Linked DNA regions of Homo sapiens: region 2 is linked to region 1. Evidence: fine-mapped expression QTL. Tissue or cell type: sun-exposed skin. Region 1 holds a variant in brackets; the other region holds the start of a gene. All regions are shown on one strand. Distances are between the middles of the regions.

The links. PIP is the estimated chance that this variant, and not a neighbour inherited with it, causes the effect. A credible set is the group of variants that fine-mapping cannot tell apart.
Region 2: it holds the start of SSH3, and the variant in region 1 is the best candidate, but not a certain one, in a credible set for the expression of SSH3 in sun-exposed skin (GTEx, PIP 0.53).

The regions. Positions count from the first base shown.
Region 1 is chr11:67,177,762-67,181,761 of GRCh38, forward strand. KDM2A (lysine demethylase 2A) reads left to right here. Exons shown (of 21, transcript NM_012308.3): 3 at 2,318-2,456; 4 at 3,559-3,637. Among named protein-coding and RNA genes, the nearest start is that of KDM2A, 60 kb to the left of the region's middle. The variant T/C (reference allele first, on the strand shown) is at 1,659.
Region 2 is chr11:67,301,068-67,305,583 of GRCh38, forward strand. SSH3 (slingshot protein phosphatase 3) reads left to right here and starts at 2,463. Exons shown (of 14, transcript NM_017857.4): 1 at 2,463-2,624; 2 at 3,051-3,088; 3 at 3,706-3,940. The coding sequence starts at 2,559. It overlaps ANKRD13D (ankyrin repeat domain 13D), which reads left to right. Exons shown (of 15, transcript NM_207354.3): 11 at 1-80; 12 at 215-331; 13 at 421-584; 14 at 665-756; 15 at 1,052-1,417. The coding sequence ends at 1,265. RefSeq lists enhancers at 1,613-2,130, 2,131-2,650.

The DNA of each region.
Region 1 (4,000 bases):
ATACATAAACCGGTACACAGTCATTTATTATGTACTATTCCTAACAGTATGTGCTACACTTTTACATGACTGGCAGCACAGTTAGATTTACACAAGCATTGCCACAAACGAGAGTAATGTGTTGTGCTATGATGTCCTGATGGCAACAGTGTCACTAAGAGATAAGCATTTTTTAGTTCTACTGTAATCTCATGGGAACACTGTCATATATGTGCAGTTCATATATATTGACTGAAATGTCATTATACTGTGCATGACTGTATTAAAAGGTAAACTTGCAGTATAAGCAACATTTTGAAAGTGACTGCTTATTAGATAGAATTCTCATACCATACAGTCTCCTCATTTAAAGTGTACAAGTCAGCTGGGTATAGTGACTGAAGCCTGTAATCCCAGCAGTTTGGAAGGCTGAGGCGTGCAGATCGCTTGAGCACAGGAGTTCGAGACCAGCCTGGCCAACATGGGAAACCCCTGTCTCTACTAAAAATAAAAAAATCAGCTGGGTGTGGTGGTGTGCACTGGTGGTGTCAGCTATGGGAGGCTGTAGGTGGGAGGATCACCTGAGCCTAGGAGGTTGAGGTTGCAGTGAGCCTTAGTGGAGCCACTGCATTCCAGCCTGCGCGACAGAGCACAACCCCATCTCAGAAAATAAAAAATAAAATAAAGTGTACAATCCAGTGGTTTTTAGTATATTCACAGGGTCATACAAATACCACTATCTAATTCCAGAACATTTTCATTGCTCTTGAAAAAACCCATACTATTAACAGTCACTTCTCCCATTCTTCATTTTCTCTAGCCCCTGGCAACTATGAATCTAGTTTCTGTCTCTATGGATTTGCCTATTCTAGACATTTTATTTAAATGAAGTCATACAATATGTGGTCTTTTATGACTGGCTTTTTTTTTATTTGGCATAATGTTTTCAGAGTTTATCTATGTCATGGCACATAGCGTTATTTCATTCCTTTTTGTGGTTAAATGATATCTCATTGTATAGGTATACCACATTTTGTTAATGCATTCATCAATTGATTGACATTTGGGTGGTTTCTATCTTTTGGCTGTTGTGAATAACACTAGTGTAAACATTTGTGTATAAGCTTTTGTTTTGAAAAGAAGAACGTATGTTTTCAGTTCTTTGGGTTATATACCTAGGAGCAGAATTGTTAAGTCGTACGATAACTTTGTTTAACTTTTTGAGAAACTTTCAAACTGTTTACCAGTGTCTGCACCATTTTACATTCCCACCAGCAATGTATGAGGCTTCCAGTTGGTCTGCATTCACATCAGCACTTGTTATTGTTTATCTCTTTGATGATAGCCGTTCTGGTGGGTATAAAGTGGTATTTCATTGTGGTTTTTGGTTTGCATTTTTCTAATGACTAATGAGAATTGAGCATTTTTCATGTGCTTATTGTACATTTGTATATCTTCTTTGGAAAGACATGTTATCTTTAAAACTAAATATTGATGGTGTGCTATTTGGAATGCTGGGTTTTTTTTGTTTTGTTTTGTTTTGTTTTTTTGAGACGAAGTTTTGCTCTTGTTGCCCAGGCTGGAATGCAATGGCACGATCTTGGCTCACTGCAACCTCCACCTCCCAGGTTCAAGCGATTCTCCTGCGTCAGCCTCCTGAGTAGCTGGGATTACAGGCA[T/C]GTGCCACTACGCCCAGCTTATTTTGTATTTTTAGTAGAGACATGGTTTCTCCGTGTTGGTCAGGCTGGTCTCTAATCTCGAACTCCCGACCTCAGGTGATCCGCCTGCCTCTGCTTCCCAAAGTACTGGGATTACAGGCGTGAGCCACCGCACCCGGCCTGGAATGCTGTTATTTAGATTAACTTTCTTCCTTTATCTGAGACAAGGGTTTTTGATCCATTCATTCAAATGTGTTTTTGAGATTGCTTTACCAAGCTAATTTTAAATACAGCTCTCCCTGTGAAAAAATTATATTTTGTATCCTGGCTTGAAATTTCTATGAAGACAGTTTGTGCCCACTCTGATAAACAGTGATAGACAAATGAAATATTTAGTAGACCCTCTTTGGTCCTGTTTTTATTGTGAATTTATATCTCTAGGCTCAAAGAATTAGCAAGGGTAAAATTCATAGAGGACCCAGTGGCTCATTGAAACTTCATTATATTCTGTGGATTCTGAGAATATCAGCTATCTTGAGAGAAAGAAAAGATCCATAAGGCAAGGAAAATAGCAACTGAGTTTGAAAGTAGCACTTTGCACATGTAGGGAAATCTATGACCACTTGTAGGTAGGCATGAAAAAGTGCATGATTTCATCAGTATGTTCCTTTCTTTCCTAGCGTGGTACCATGCGACGACGCTATGAAGATGATGGCATTTCAGATGATGAAATTGAAGGAAAAAGAACTTTTGACTTGGAAGAGAAACTGCACACCAACAAATATAATGCCAATTTTGTTACTTTTATGGAAGGAAAAGGTCAGTATTGTTTTGGTTCCAGCTTACAGTCCTTTGATGTGGGAAGCCATAGACTCTGAGCATTGGGGGTTTAGCCTTTATCCAGCTAAAATATTGCCTGTTGATGTTATCTATCTATTTTCTCTTGTTATACAATGCCATTTGCATGCACTTATCCCCCAGTCCTCCCACCCTGTGAGTCATTCTCTCCTATATTAGAAGTAATCTTTTTATTAGGGCAGGAGTATTGTTGGATTTTTTTGCCTAACGGCCTCTTCCTCCTTCTTCTATCCCTTGGTTTAAATTTAATTAAAAATAGTACAATAGAAATCCTTTTATGTATATATCTACCCCACCAAAACTGAGGGTGGGATTCCATGCGCACCGTGCATCTTTGATCCTTGGCAAACTGACAAGGATGTCATATATGTATTGTAGTGGTCAAAATTAATGTTTTGTTTACTTTTTTTTTTGGAGACGGAGTCTTGCTGTGTCACCCAGGGTGGAGTGCAGTGGTGCGATCTCGGCTCACTGCAACCTCCGTCTCCTAGGTTGAAGCAATTCTCCTACCTCAGCCTCCTGAGTAGCTGGGATTACAGGCACGTGCCACCACACCCGGCTAATTTTTTTTTTTTTTATACTTTTAGTAGAGACGGGGTTTCGCCATGTTGGCCAGGCTGGTCTCGAACTCCTGACCTGAGGTGATCTGCCCACCTTGGCCTCCCAAAGTGCTGGGATTACAGGTATGAGCCACCACACCTGGCCCTTTTTTTTTTTTTTTTAACTCTTCAGAGACAGGGTGATGATAATTTCTGTTTAGCATTTATAAGATGACTCACTATTAGTAGTCCTATCCCCATATTATTTAAGCTCTAAATTTCCTGTGGAAATTTAGACTTGGAATATAGACTTGGAAAACCCCTCAAGCGTTGCTTCTCAATGTGCTCTCCATATTTTCTAAGAGATGCTTCTTACTAAGCATATATTTTATTGACTAACAGCATAACTATATACACAGAATAACAAACACCATTTATACTGTATTACTTAGGATCCTTTTTATGGTCCTTTTATCGTTTTTAATTATACCACTTATCTTTCTAATATTTTCCTATGGTGACAGATTTTAATGTAGAGTATATTCAGCGGGGTGGCTTGAGAGATCCTCTGATTTTCAAGAATTCTGATGGACTCGGAATAAAGTAAGTGTTTTCAGCCTGGCTGGATGTAGTTGCAAAATGGCCTCGTTACACCCAGGGCAATAAACAGTGGTGGTATTGATAACCCAAAACAATAGTAATTGAAAATAATTTCCCACTTTGTTTTAAAAGTATATGCTTTTCTTTTGATACACAAGTGTTTCATATTAGAGGTAAATGAGAAAATATAGATGAACCAAAAAAAAAAAAACAACAAATTTAAATCTCCTGAAATCTACCACCCTTAGGTAGATCATTAACATTTTATTATGTATTCTTTTTTCCTGTGCATATGTGTAAATATATAATCACCTATATTTTTAAAATAATTTCAAACCTGATTGTGAATATTACTGTGTCTGGGGA
Region 2 (4,516 bases), 120 kb after region 1:
GGCCATCAGCAACGCTCACTTTGCCAAGCTGCGCGACTTCATCACTCTGCGCCTTCCACCTGGCTTCCCCGTCAAAATTGGTGAGAGGCTGGGCACAGGCAGCGGGAGGACCTCAGGCATGGCACCCTCCCTCAGCGCAGTCCCTGGAGAGCTGCAGGGGCCGGAGGCACAGGTGGCTCTCCGCCAGGGCTCAGGCGTGGCTGTCTTCTCACAGAGATTCCCCTTTTCCACGTGCTCAATGCCCGCATCACCTTCAGCAACCTGTGTGGCTGTGATGAGCCCCTGAGCTCCGTGTGGGTGCCGGCCCCCAGCTCTGCTGTTGCCGCATCAGGTACCCCAACGGGAGGAAGAGGGAGCCTGCACAGCTTTCTGGTCACCAAGCCCCGCGGGTTGAGCGTGGCCCCTCTGCCACCTGCCTAGGGAACCCTTTCCCGTGCGAGGTGGACCCCACCGTGTTTGAAGTGCCCAACGGGTACAGCGTGCTGGGCATGGAGCGCAACGAGCCCCTCCGGGACGAGGACGATGACCTCCTGCAGTTCGCCATCCAGCAGAGCCTGCTTGAAGCGGGCACTGAGGCGGAGCAGGTGGGACTTGCCCAGGGGGTGGGCTCTGGCCTCTGCAGCCACACGGCAGAAGTGACAGCTGTGGGCTCTGGTGGCTGCAGGTGACCGTCTGGGAAGCCCTGACCAACACCCGGCCCGGTGCCCGCCCTCCTCCCCAGGCCACGGTTTATGAGGAACAGCTTCAGCTGGAGCGGTGAGCCCCTCATGGGGCTGGCTGGGTCCCTGTCCCCCCAGCCCTGGCTTGGCGGGGAGGGGGATAGCAGGAAGGTGCTAGGACCCCAGGCCCTCTGCAAGGCCACCCTCTGTCAGCAGCGCTATCTGCCACCAAAGGTGGTGTGAGGGGTGGGGAAGCAGGGCCCTGCCTTGTCTCCTCTGCTTGCCACCCTGTCTTTGCCTTTGTCCTCCAAAGCCGGTCCCCAGCCCCTCGGCTTCTGCCCCAGCCTTGGCGCTCACTGGCCTGTTCTTCCCTCCCCTGCCCTGCCTGGAAGGGCCCTCCAGGAAAGCCTGCAGCTGTCCACAGAGCCCAGGGGCCCAGGATCCCCTCCCAGGACACCCCCAGCCCCCGGTCCACCCAGCTTTGAAGAGCAGCTGCGCCTGGCCCTGGAGTTGTCTTCACGGGAGCAGGAGGAGCGGGAGCGGCGCGGGCAGCAGGAGGAGGAGGACTTACAGCGGATCCTGCAGCTGTCACTCACTGAGCACTGAGCCATAGCCCCGGGAGGGCTGGCCAGGCCACTCCCTGCCCGCTTTTGTAATTTATTTATTTATAAACTCTCTGCTGCTGAGCTTGGGGCCTGGAGCCCCAGGAATGAGCAGGCAGGGGAGACTGAGATGGAAATAAAGAGACTGTCGCAGCAGGGCTGCTCTGCTCACTGGGCTGGAGCGGTGGGGACCCTGAAGGTGGGGCGCTGTGGAGAGGCACTGTGGATGGCGGCCTCAGACCTGGGCTTGAATCCTGGTCATGGTCCCCTTAGCCTATCTGAGCCTCAGTTTCTTCAGTTGTAAAATGAGGAGACCACCCCCCACCCTCCGCCCCTCAGGGCTGAAAGGAGCTGGCGAGAGTCACGTGTCCTTACCAAGCAGGCGTCCTGTGAAAGTCAGATCCCCTGTGCCCTGTCCCACCTGCTGGGGACCCGGTTCGTCCTGCCACCCAGCCTAGTCTTCTGGAAACCGGCCCACGTGCCTGCTGGGGAGGAAAAGCCTGGGTCCCCAGGCACCATTCACCTCCAGCTGGGAAGAGCCCCGACGCCGACCCCTGCAGCCAAGCCCAGGCCCTGGCCCTGACTGCGGCTTGTTCTCTGCGGGTGGGTTTGCGCAAGTCACTTCCGCCTGCGTAGCTGGAAGCCCTGCCCTGCTCGCCTCCGAGGTGGACCTGAGAGCCCCTCATGGGCTTCCTGGGTTATTTGTAAACCCCAGGCCGTTTTCCCCGGAAGCCTGTCTTCCAGTGGTTCCTGCGGAGTGGGAACGAGAAGGCCGACCAGCAGGGAGAAATGTTTGGGGTGGGGGCCCTTGGCCGAGGGCGCGCCGTGCCTGATCCTCTCTAGACCTGTCCCCCACCTCCCCACCTCAGCTCTGCCTCCCTAGGACCCGCCTCTGCAGGGCACAGGACGCTGGAGGCCCAGAACAGCTCAGGTGCTCCCGCTGGGCCGGCCCGGGCCGGGCGCTTCCTGGGAGGGGGACCAAACTCCCGGCCTTCAGCTCTTGCCCTCCGGGTCTCCGGGCTCCGCACCTGCGCCCGCCCCCGGCCTCGCCCCTGACCTGTGCCCAGGGGCTGGGCGGGCCGAACAGCGGAGACCGGAGGGGCGGGGCCCGGCCGCCCTGAGAAGCTCCGCGGGCCCGGCTGGGCGAGTGTCTGGCCCTTTAAGGGCCGCCCCCGAGGAGGTGCCAGGCCCGGGTGGCGCCGTCCGTCCTTCCTGGTCCTGCGGGTCCAGGACTGTCCGCGGGGTTGAGGGAAGGGGCCGTGCCCGGTGCCAGCCCAGGTGCTCGCGGCCTGGCTCCATGGCCCTGGTCACAGTGAGCCGTTCGCCCCCGGGCAGCGGCGCCTCCACGCCCGTGGGGCCCTGGGTGAGTGTGGTCCGGCCGTGGTGCCGCCCACGCAGTTGCTGCCCCGGCTTGGGAGCGCGTCCTGCCCGCCAGCGGGCTCCTCTCGAACGGGGACATGAGGAGGGGGCCCCGGGGCTCGGGCTGGAGGGCGCTGGGGGCCTCGAGGGTCTCTGGTACTGGCGCCGGGGCACAATCCAGAGCCCTGCGCGCCGCCCGGGCTGCGGAGGCCCCGATCTGAGCGCGCCCCCCGCCACACTCGGCGCCCACCCAGCCGACCTGGCCTTGGGCCGGGGCTCCACGGGGCCTCCCGGTGGGGCGTGGACTGGGGTGGGAAGACGATTGGCATCTGGCGCCTTTTCTGGCCTCCCCCAACTCTAGAATTCCTGAGAGAGGGGAGGGGACAGCCCTCCCCGCCCTCACCCTGCCCTGGGGCTGCTCTCTCCGCAGGACCAGGCGGTCCAGCGAAGGAGTCGACTCCAGCGAAGGTGAGCGCCACCTCCCCCACGCAGACACTTCCGTCTGCCCCGGGCCTGGCCACGGCCGTCCTGGGCTCCAGCTGCAGGGACAGAAAGCTCCCCGGAGGACGCGCAGCGAAGCCCACTGCCAAATTTGTGGGGCAGCGTTCCCGGTGGGGCCGGCTGGTGGGCTCGCGGTAGGGCGGCCTTTGCCTTCACCCTCCCCCTGGTCAGCTGGGGCTTCCTCATCCACTGCCCTGGGCTTTGGCTCAGGTGGTGGCCACGGGCCGAACGGCAGGAGGGCATGATGGGCCTGAGGACTCCTGGGTCCCCGACCATGTTCCCAGCAGCACTTGAGTTAAACAGGTGGGAGGGGAAAAGGAGCAGCCCCCTCTCCCCACAGATGAGCTAGAGTAGAGGGGCTGAGAGCTTGGAAGCCCCCAAGACTGGTTCTCAGCAATATTGCCAAGGGGCCGAGGGGTTAGAAATGCAGATGCTCAGGCCTCCACTCTAGACCTATCGACCGCGTGGGGGCCCATGAATCCGTGTAGACAAGGGCTGCAGGTGAATGTGATGCATGCTAGACTTTGAGAGCCCCTACCCTAAGGGGAATGAGGAGCCATGACAGTTGCCCACTGCCCTGCCAGGCAGAGCTTTGCGGTGCTCCGTGGGGCTGTCCTGGGACTGCAGGATGGAGGGGACAATGATGATGCAGCAGAGGCCAGTTCTGAGCCAACAGAGAAGGCCCCGAGTGAGGAGGAGCTCCACGGGGACCAGACAGACTTCGGGCAAGGATCCCAGAGTCCCCAGAAGCAGGAGGAGCAGAGGCAGCACCTGCACCTCATGGTACAGCTGCTGAGGCCGCAGGATGACATCCGCCTGGTGAGGGCCCATGTGGAGCTCCGGGGGGTGGGGGGAAGAGACACGCCTGAGGGCAGAATGGAGCCCTGTGTATGTGTCTGCTTGGGGAGCAATGGTGTGAGGGCAGGGGGCAGCCTGGGGAGTGTTGGGGTTACCCATATCCCAGTGACCCTGCTGTTTCAGGCAGAGATGTTTTGTTTTTTGTTTGTTTTTTTTTTGAGATGGAGTCTCGCTCTGTTGCCCAGGCTGGAGTGCAGTGGCGTGATCTCGGCTCACTGCAAGTTCCACCTCCCGGGTTCACACCATTCTCCTGCCTCAGCCTCCCGAGGAGCTGGGACTACAGGCACCCGCCACTATGCCTGGCTAATTTTTTTTGTATTTTTAGTAGAGATGCGGTTTCACCGTGTTAGCCAGGGTGGTCTCAATCTCCTGACCTCGTGATCCGCCTGCCTCGGCCTCCCTAAGTGCTGGGATTACAGGCGTGAGCCACCGCGCCCGGCCTGGGCAGAGATATTTTGACAGGGCGAGGTCATGGCTGCAGGTCTCTGGAAGGGAAAGAACAGGGGAGGTTTGTCCTGTGTGAGCCAATAGGGCCAA